2 linked regions of the Homo sapiens genome follow. The protein of the gene in region 1 interacts with the protein of each later gene in a biochemical or structural test. Each region holds a gene or a part of one and is shown in the gene's direction. Other genes may lie near its edges.

Region 1 (3,648 bases):
GAATCCGGAAGATAGGAGGAATATGGACGTGGGTGGGAACCAACAAATCTCTTACTGAAGAAGCAGAGAACTGGGGAGATGGTGAGCCCAACAACAAGAAGAACAAGGAGGACTGCGTGGAGATCTATATCAAGAGAAACAAAGATGCAGGCAAATGGAACGATGACGCCTGCCACAAACTAAAGGCAGCCCTCTGTTACACAGGTAGGGAGTGACAAGACGGCTATGCTGCCTCAGACTCAGGAAGGGCCACGGTTAAGAGAATACTCAGATTTACCCCATGGAAAGGTGGGGGGATGAGAACAGCTTCTGGTTCATTCTAAAATACATCTAGCCCTCTATATAATCTTGCATCGTGTCACTCCTAAGAATTTTTGGTGTGTAAGATTTGTCCCTGTGCACAAAAGCTATACCCCTAAATCAAGTTACATCAAAATGATAGATCTACGTAGGAAGTACAGAGGAAGAGCTAGACAATCAGTGCCTTTGATAATAAGGCAGGGGAGGAGAAGCTGACAGCTGGGGCCAGTTGGAAACTTAGGCTCACATCACCTCAGTTTTCACATTGTGAAGTAGAGAGTGTGGTGCTGCGTGCTTCCTTCTTGGTCTAACCTTATATAATTTTATATAAAAATTGCACTATCTTTGGTGTATGAATATTTCTGTAAAATCTTCTACAATTCCAAAACAGCCAGCATTTTCCAAGTGATGTTTTAATAATGAACCATAGTTAATTTGGTCTCTTATAAATTGGACTCTACCGTTTTAGCAAATTTGGACTTTTTAATCTTTGATTTCTATAAAGAAAGGGATTGCCAAGAAATAATTGCATGCAGAAATGATTGAGGTCAGGTCATCATTTAACCTTCTCACTCATTAAAAACAAGTAATTTCAAGAGTTTCAAGGTATGCCACTAAGTTTCCTATAAGTGTTACAGAATATTAGTATTGGTAATTTCATTCCAAAAGCAAATAAATGCCTATGACTATATGCTTAGTGTATTTTATACGTAAAAATTTTAGCATATGATTTTTATGCTATGAATTTACAAATAAACCTTTCCTGATTATTTAAATCATCTCAGACAAAAGGTTATCTATGTCTAAAGAAATGACTTTGAGTACTAAAATGTAATCACATTAAAATATTTTTTTTCTGACCTCCTTAAAGCTTCTTGCCAGCCCTGGTCATGCAGTGGCCATGGAGAATGTGTAGAAATCATCAATAATTACACCTGCAACTGTGATGTGGGGTACTATGGGCCCCAGTGTCAGTTTGGTAAGTCTCTTTCCTTTCTTTGCTTCTTCTTAGGTAAAGTCACAGGAATCATTATAGCTTATCATGAAGCTGGTTGGAACAAAATGATACTAGCCACTCTGAGAAATGGGAAGTTTTGATCAGAAAGCTCTGCTTTCACAATATTGTTACCTTTCCGTAAAGATTTCATAAGTCAGCATGAAGTTTCGACTCACTTCTCAACAAGTCTTTTTGAGTACCACAAGAAGCACAGTGTTGGGATAAAAGCTGTCAGGGTTACCATAAGGAATTAGCATGGTAGATTCCCGCTCTCAAGAAGCTCACGATCTAATGAGCTTGTTAGATTAATTAGAACTCTAAGGTCTGGAAGAAACTATGCCATTTATCATTAGGAGGCTGAGTTACCCAGAAAGTATCTTGCTTTTTCCTTCTAGTAGTTCCTTTCCTTCTTGCAGTTCTCCACACTTAACACATGTGCTCTGTAGCACACTGACTTTGCTGGTGGCCTTCTCTCTCATTTTGCACATGGCCAAAAAACATGTCATCTTTAAGACATTGTTCAAAGACAGTTTCTTCTAGGAAGCTTTCTTAGTTCTGATAGCTCCACATATTTCTTCCTCATTTCTCCCACTTATGTTGAAGTCATCTGTTCACTTGTCCGTCTCCTCTGGTACTGAAAACTTCTTGAGATCAGTAAGTGTCCTATTTATCATTGCATCTTTGGGATCCACAAAATGCCTGTATATATGAGGCACTTGCTTGTGAGCCTGAATTGAATTGGACAATTTAATTTTTTAAAAAAGCAATGTTTGTAAACAATAAAGAATTAAAACCAAAATACATTTAAATGTCAACCAACTGAAATAGATCTATAGATCTAACTCATTTCACTTGATCCCTGGGCCATGACTCCTTCCTAATACTTTACCCTCACCCCATTTTTGAACTCTATTTTTTAACCCTTATGTTATTGGTATGCCTATTTTACTCATTTTTAATTATTGGTATGCCTATTTCACTCATTTTTAACATTTTACTTTTCTTTGTCTTGGTTTCTCTCATATCACTCTTTTCTCATTCTTTCTACCTGTGATCATTTCTCCTGAGATCCTTCATGAGCACTTATCCAGGACCATAAACTACTATAATTTCTCAGCTTTTGTCTTTTGTATATTGCTCTTCTGACTCTAATCTACATGTATCCTTTGGTCAAACTTACTGACTTTTGCGGACTCACAAATCTATGTGATCTTTGGACTGATAAGCCTATCTCCAGCTCTGAACTCAAATATGCTAAGGATGTCCTTTGGGATGTTTAAAAGACTATAAAACCAATTGTTCCCAGTCAGCTTTTCTCTTCGTATTTCTTATCTCAGTATGTGGAATCACCATTTACATGGGCACCCTGGTATGAGACTCTCTTAACTCCCCCAACATTTATGCAGGGTAACATTCTACCAATTTTTACAACTTAGTGTTTTTCTAATTTGTCTTCCACTTGTCAACTCTACTACCATTGCCGTCATTATCTTTCTTCTAGATTCTTGCAATAGTTTATTAGATGAGTTCCACAATTTTAAATTAGCTCCCCTCAAATACATTATTCATACTACAGGGAGACTGATCAATTAAAAGCAATTAAAACACATCACACATACATGACAATCCACCCATTAATTTCTACCTACCATTTTGTCCTACAGGGTGAAATCTAAGCTCTTCAAGCCCCAGAGTAATGCTTGATATATAATAGATACTCTTTAAATCAATGAAAAAAGATAACATTTTCTCTTAGTTCCCATGTTTCTCCCTAATCTCATCTCATATAGTTTCCAAATACAAAAATTCTTCTGATTCCTTGAGTCCATTCTTCCTTGAAGTCTCTAGAGCAAGGTAGCAATAATGGCTTAAATTTGACAGATGAGGAATAAGACATGAAAGTTGTACTGTTTACTAAATGGCATGGCAGGGTCTAAAATGTGAAAACTTTGATTTCCAAGTCTTAAATTTACCTATTGTACCACCAATCAGAACAGGGAAATAGATACAGTTTCTGGAGAGGGTTGTCAAAATCAAAAGAGTTAAAATTCTGGAACTGAGCTAGAATAGAAGACAGAATTGAGGTCAAAATGCTTCCTAGACTTTTATATTCTCTCCTTGCAAAGAAGGCTTATTATGGAGACCCACTCTTTCTCTGAACATCTTGCTCCCAATACTCTAGTAGACTCAGGGGCTCTGATGTGATAGTTATTTCCCGACTAAGCTGGTCATTCCCAGTTACACCTATTTGGCTTTAAGGATTCTCACTACAGATAATGCTGAAGATAATAATATGAAGACTAGCTAATGTTTACTTAGAATTTCTGATGAGTCAGGCTTTGTTCTAAGGT
Region 2 (3,654 bases), on another chromosome or scaffold:
GACAAAATAGTGGACCTCCCTGAACCTCAGTTTCTTCATCTATAAAGTAATAACAGCCCTACCTTGTGGGTTGCTATGAAGATGAGCGAGTATATATATCATGGGCTTGGCTTTACGCCCAACTCAGGATCAACACTCAAAAAATAGCTATGATGATTAGTAAGCATATATATTGAGCACCTGGTGGGTTTAAGGGACCCCAGGCATTGGGATCCTGCCAATGTTTGTGGGTATCAGTGGATATATGATAATAAAAACTGAAGCCCCAGTGCCACTCTGTGGGAGAGGGAGGCATATGGAAAAGAGTATAAGATTTGGAAGGGGTGGTCTGGAGGTCTGGAGAAAGCTTCCTGAAGGAGGTGGGGTTTTCACATAGGGATTTTAAAATTAAAAGGGTCAGTGTTTCCTAATGTGGCTGAGGCTCTATGAATTGTAGTGTGTAGGGGAGATGCAGATTAGGGTCGGGGAGTCTGTGATGGTGGTTCTTGAGATGGAGTCATTGAGGCTTTGGGGAGATTAGCTCTCAGAACTGGAGAGAAAATTCCACGGTGGCAGGGTGTGGCTGCTCACGCCTGGAATCCCAGCAAATTTGAGAGGCCAAGGTGGGAGGATCACTTGAGCCTAGGAGTTCAAGACCAGCCTGGGCAACCTAGTAAGACTGTACTAAAAAGACAAAAAAATTAGCTGGGCATGGTAGTGGCACACGCCTGTAGTCCCAGCTACTCAGGAGACTGAGGTAGGAGAATTGCTTGAACGTGGGAGACAGAGGTTGCAGTGAGCCAAGATCACGCCACTGCTCTCCAGCCTGGGCAACAGAGGGAGACCCTGACTCAAGGAAAAAAACAAGGTGCCCAGGGCTGGGGTGGGGGAATGTGGGTGTTCCCAGCATGGTGCAGCTTGGGACAGGATCTGAGGCAGGAGCGAGCTGGACATGGCGGGGTTAGGAGCCCAGCCATTCAAGGGCAGACCCAAAAGCACCTGGTGTCAGTGTGGCCAGAGCTTTGGAGTGTGGTCGTCCAGAGAAGGGCTGAGGAGGGGAGCGTGGCCTGCCCAGGAGGGTCCTCAGGGTGTCCCCCAGGCCTAGAGAAGGTGGGGGAAGAGGCATGGAGGCTGTCCCCCATCTGGTTTTCCTCAGGAACCCATGTTTGAAAGGAGAGGAGGGTGCTGCCTGGGGTTTTAACACCACTGCCCTGTGGAAAGCTGAGAGGGGAAGGGGACTAGACTCCCTGTGGTTAGAATTCCCCCCCTTGCAGGGAGGGAGGGGAAGAGCCACTCCTAGCCACCCTCAGGCATCATCTCTGAGATGCCTTCCCTGGTTTCCTAGGGAGAACCAAAGTGTGTTCCATGATCTGTGTGTCTCCTCCACCATGCGGTGAGGCCCTCGAGGGGCCAACAACATACTTATCACCACCTCCAGGGCCCAGCCCAGCACCCAGCGCTGAGCGGTCGCTTGGGATACTCTGGACTGTAGAACTGAGGGGAACCGGCTTCAGCCCTGGCTTTAGGCTCCCTGGAAGGGGAGTTTGCATCCTGGGAAGGGATGTCTGGCCAGTGGGCTTGTTCTCCAGCAGCTAGAGCTGGTGGGAGCAACTGCTGAAGGTTAAGGCTTCTGTGGGGCTGGTGACCCCTGTGATGCTGGTGGCTGCTGTGGAGCTGGCTCAGCACTTAGCTCAGAGCCCTTCACTGTTTTTTTTTTTTTTGAGATGGAGTCTCGTTCTGTCACCCAGGCTGGACTGCAGTGGCGTGATCTCAGCTCACTACAAGCTCCACCTCCCGGGTTCACGCCATTCTCCTGCCTCAGCCTCCCGAATAGCTAGGACTACAGGCGCCCACCTCCACGCCCGGCTAATTTTCTGTATTTTTTAGTAGGGACGGGGATTCACCATGTTAGCCAGGAAGGTCTCGATCTCCTGACCTCATGATCCGCCCGCCTCAGCCTCCCAAAGTGCTGGGATCACAGGCATGAGCCACCGCACCCAGCTCAGAGCCCTTCACTCTTAAGGGAAGTGGGAGGAATCGTGTCTCCAGTTCACTGGACTTCTCAGGAGGGGACGTAGATGACCCCTATTCCAGGAAGTGCTGCTTCTTCACACCCTTTGAGGCAGAGGCCCTCTTCAGGGCTGCTGAATGCAAGCTTTGCTCTAGCTGAAATGGAAGTCATTCCTACATAATCAGAGAAAGAGAATGGCATTGCCCTGCCCATCCCTACCCACCAGCCTGAGCCTGCCTGGACACTTTCACTGGACCTCAGCCAGGAGCTCTTTACCCAGCTCTGGGCTCATTTCCTATTTGCACCCACTGGCCATGAAGCAGGGCAGGGAGCTCAGCTGGTGGGGTTTCCTGTCCCGGACCCAGGAACATGGGCTAAGTTGGATGGGCCTCTCTTTATCATGTATCCTGTCTGCTCTATGGGGCTGTTAAGAAATCAAGTGATGTAGCAGATCTGGGATGGTGACTCCTACCCTGCACAGGCCAAATGACGGGGGCATTCTCTATAAGAAAAGCCTTCAAGAAAATTGACACAGAGGATCCCTTAAAGGAGCCTCTTCATATTTGCAGTAACATTTGCCATATGACTGCTTCGAGTCGGCAGCCTGCAGGCTGTGCAATGTGGAATTCGGTTGGCAAAGGGTACTTTCCACACCACTTCTAAATGAGCCAGAAAATCATAGGACACAGAATTCTAGAGCTGGGGAGCCTTCTGGAAATCATCTACTACAACCTGCTTGTTTCAAATGGGGGATTGCAGGCCAGGGAGGTGGGTTCATTCGCCCAAGTTCCCAGTGACTCTCAATAAATAGCTTTCCAGGAGGTGGGTGTGCACACGTGTGTGTGCGTGTGTGTGTGTGTGCGTGCATGTATGTGTGTGCATGTGCGCATACGTGTCAGCTGTAAATACCAGAATAGAACTCAGCCCTTTCAGTGCTGATTCCCTCCTGGGAATTGGAAAAACTCACCAAATCCCCTTTATATATTTTTTTATTTTACTTCTTTTTGTTCTGAGATGGAATCTCGCTGTGTTGCCAAGGGTGGAGTGCAGGTGGCTTGCTGCAACCTCTGCCTCCCAGATTCAAGACATCCTCCTGCCTCAGCCTCCTGAGTAGCTGGGACTACAGGCATGCGCCACCACACCCAGCTAATTTCTGTAGAAATAGGGTCTCACCATGTTGGCCAGGCTGGTCTTGAACGCCTAACCTTGAGTGATCTGCCCACCTCAGCCTCCCAGTGCTAGGATTACAGGCATGAGCCATCATGCCTGGCGAAAAACCTCTTTAAAAAGGACTTTAGGATGGTGACAAACCTATACTGTGCCCACATCTCTTTCCCTACCCCTCTACCATAAGGGTAAATTGAGGCTTGGGGCCATGTTGCTATTTAAGAGTTAGACTCCTAAGGGTGCCTGGAATACTGTGCCATAGCACTGGCCACCATGCATTGTGCCTAAATATGTCGGTGTTTGCCACTGGCCCACTGGCTGAGGACCCCCTGTCATTTCCACAGCCTCTAGCCAAATAGGTGGTTAAGAAATGTTTGCGGGATAATTGGCTGCACAAAATGCAGCGTTCAGCTGCAGATTCATCAGTGGCCCTTGCCCACATCTCCCGCATCCCAAGCTCTTGCATTGTCTCTGAGTCCTGGCCCTGCCCTGAATCG

Evidence for each region. Proteins that work in one complex are often made in the same cells at the same time.
Region 2: the proteins of SELL (region 1) and PODXL form a complex in vitro, tested with the Homo sapiens proteins (one large-scale study listed by IntAct).

The regions. Positions count from the first base shown.
Region 1 is NC_000001.11:169,704,973-169,708,620, reverse strand, and holds part of SELL (L-selectin precursor), read left to right. Parts: coding exon 1-204; intron 205-1,171; coding exon 1,172-1,279; intron 1,280-3,648. UniProt on the Homo sapiens protein: Calcium-dependent lectin that mediates cell adhesion by binding to glycoproteins on neighboring cells. Mediates the adherence of lymphocytes to endothelial cells of high endothelial venules in peripheral lymph nodes.
Region 2 is NC_000007.14:131,549,983-131,553,636, reverse strand, and holds part of PODXL (podocalyxin isoform 1 precursor), read left to right. Parts: intron 1-3,654. UniProt on the Homo sapiens protein: Involved in the regulation of both adhesion and cell morphology and cancer progression. Functions as an anti-adhesive molecule that maintains an open filtration pathway between neighboring foot processes in the podocyte by charge repulsion.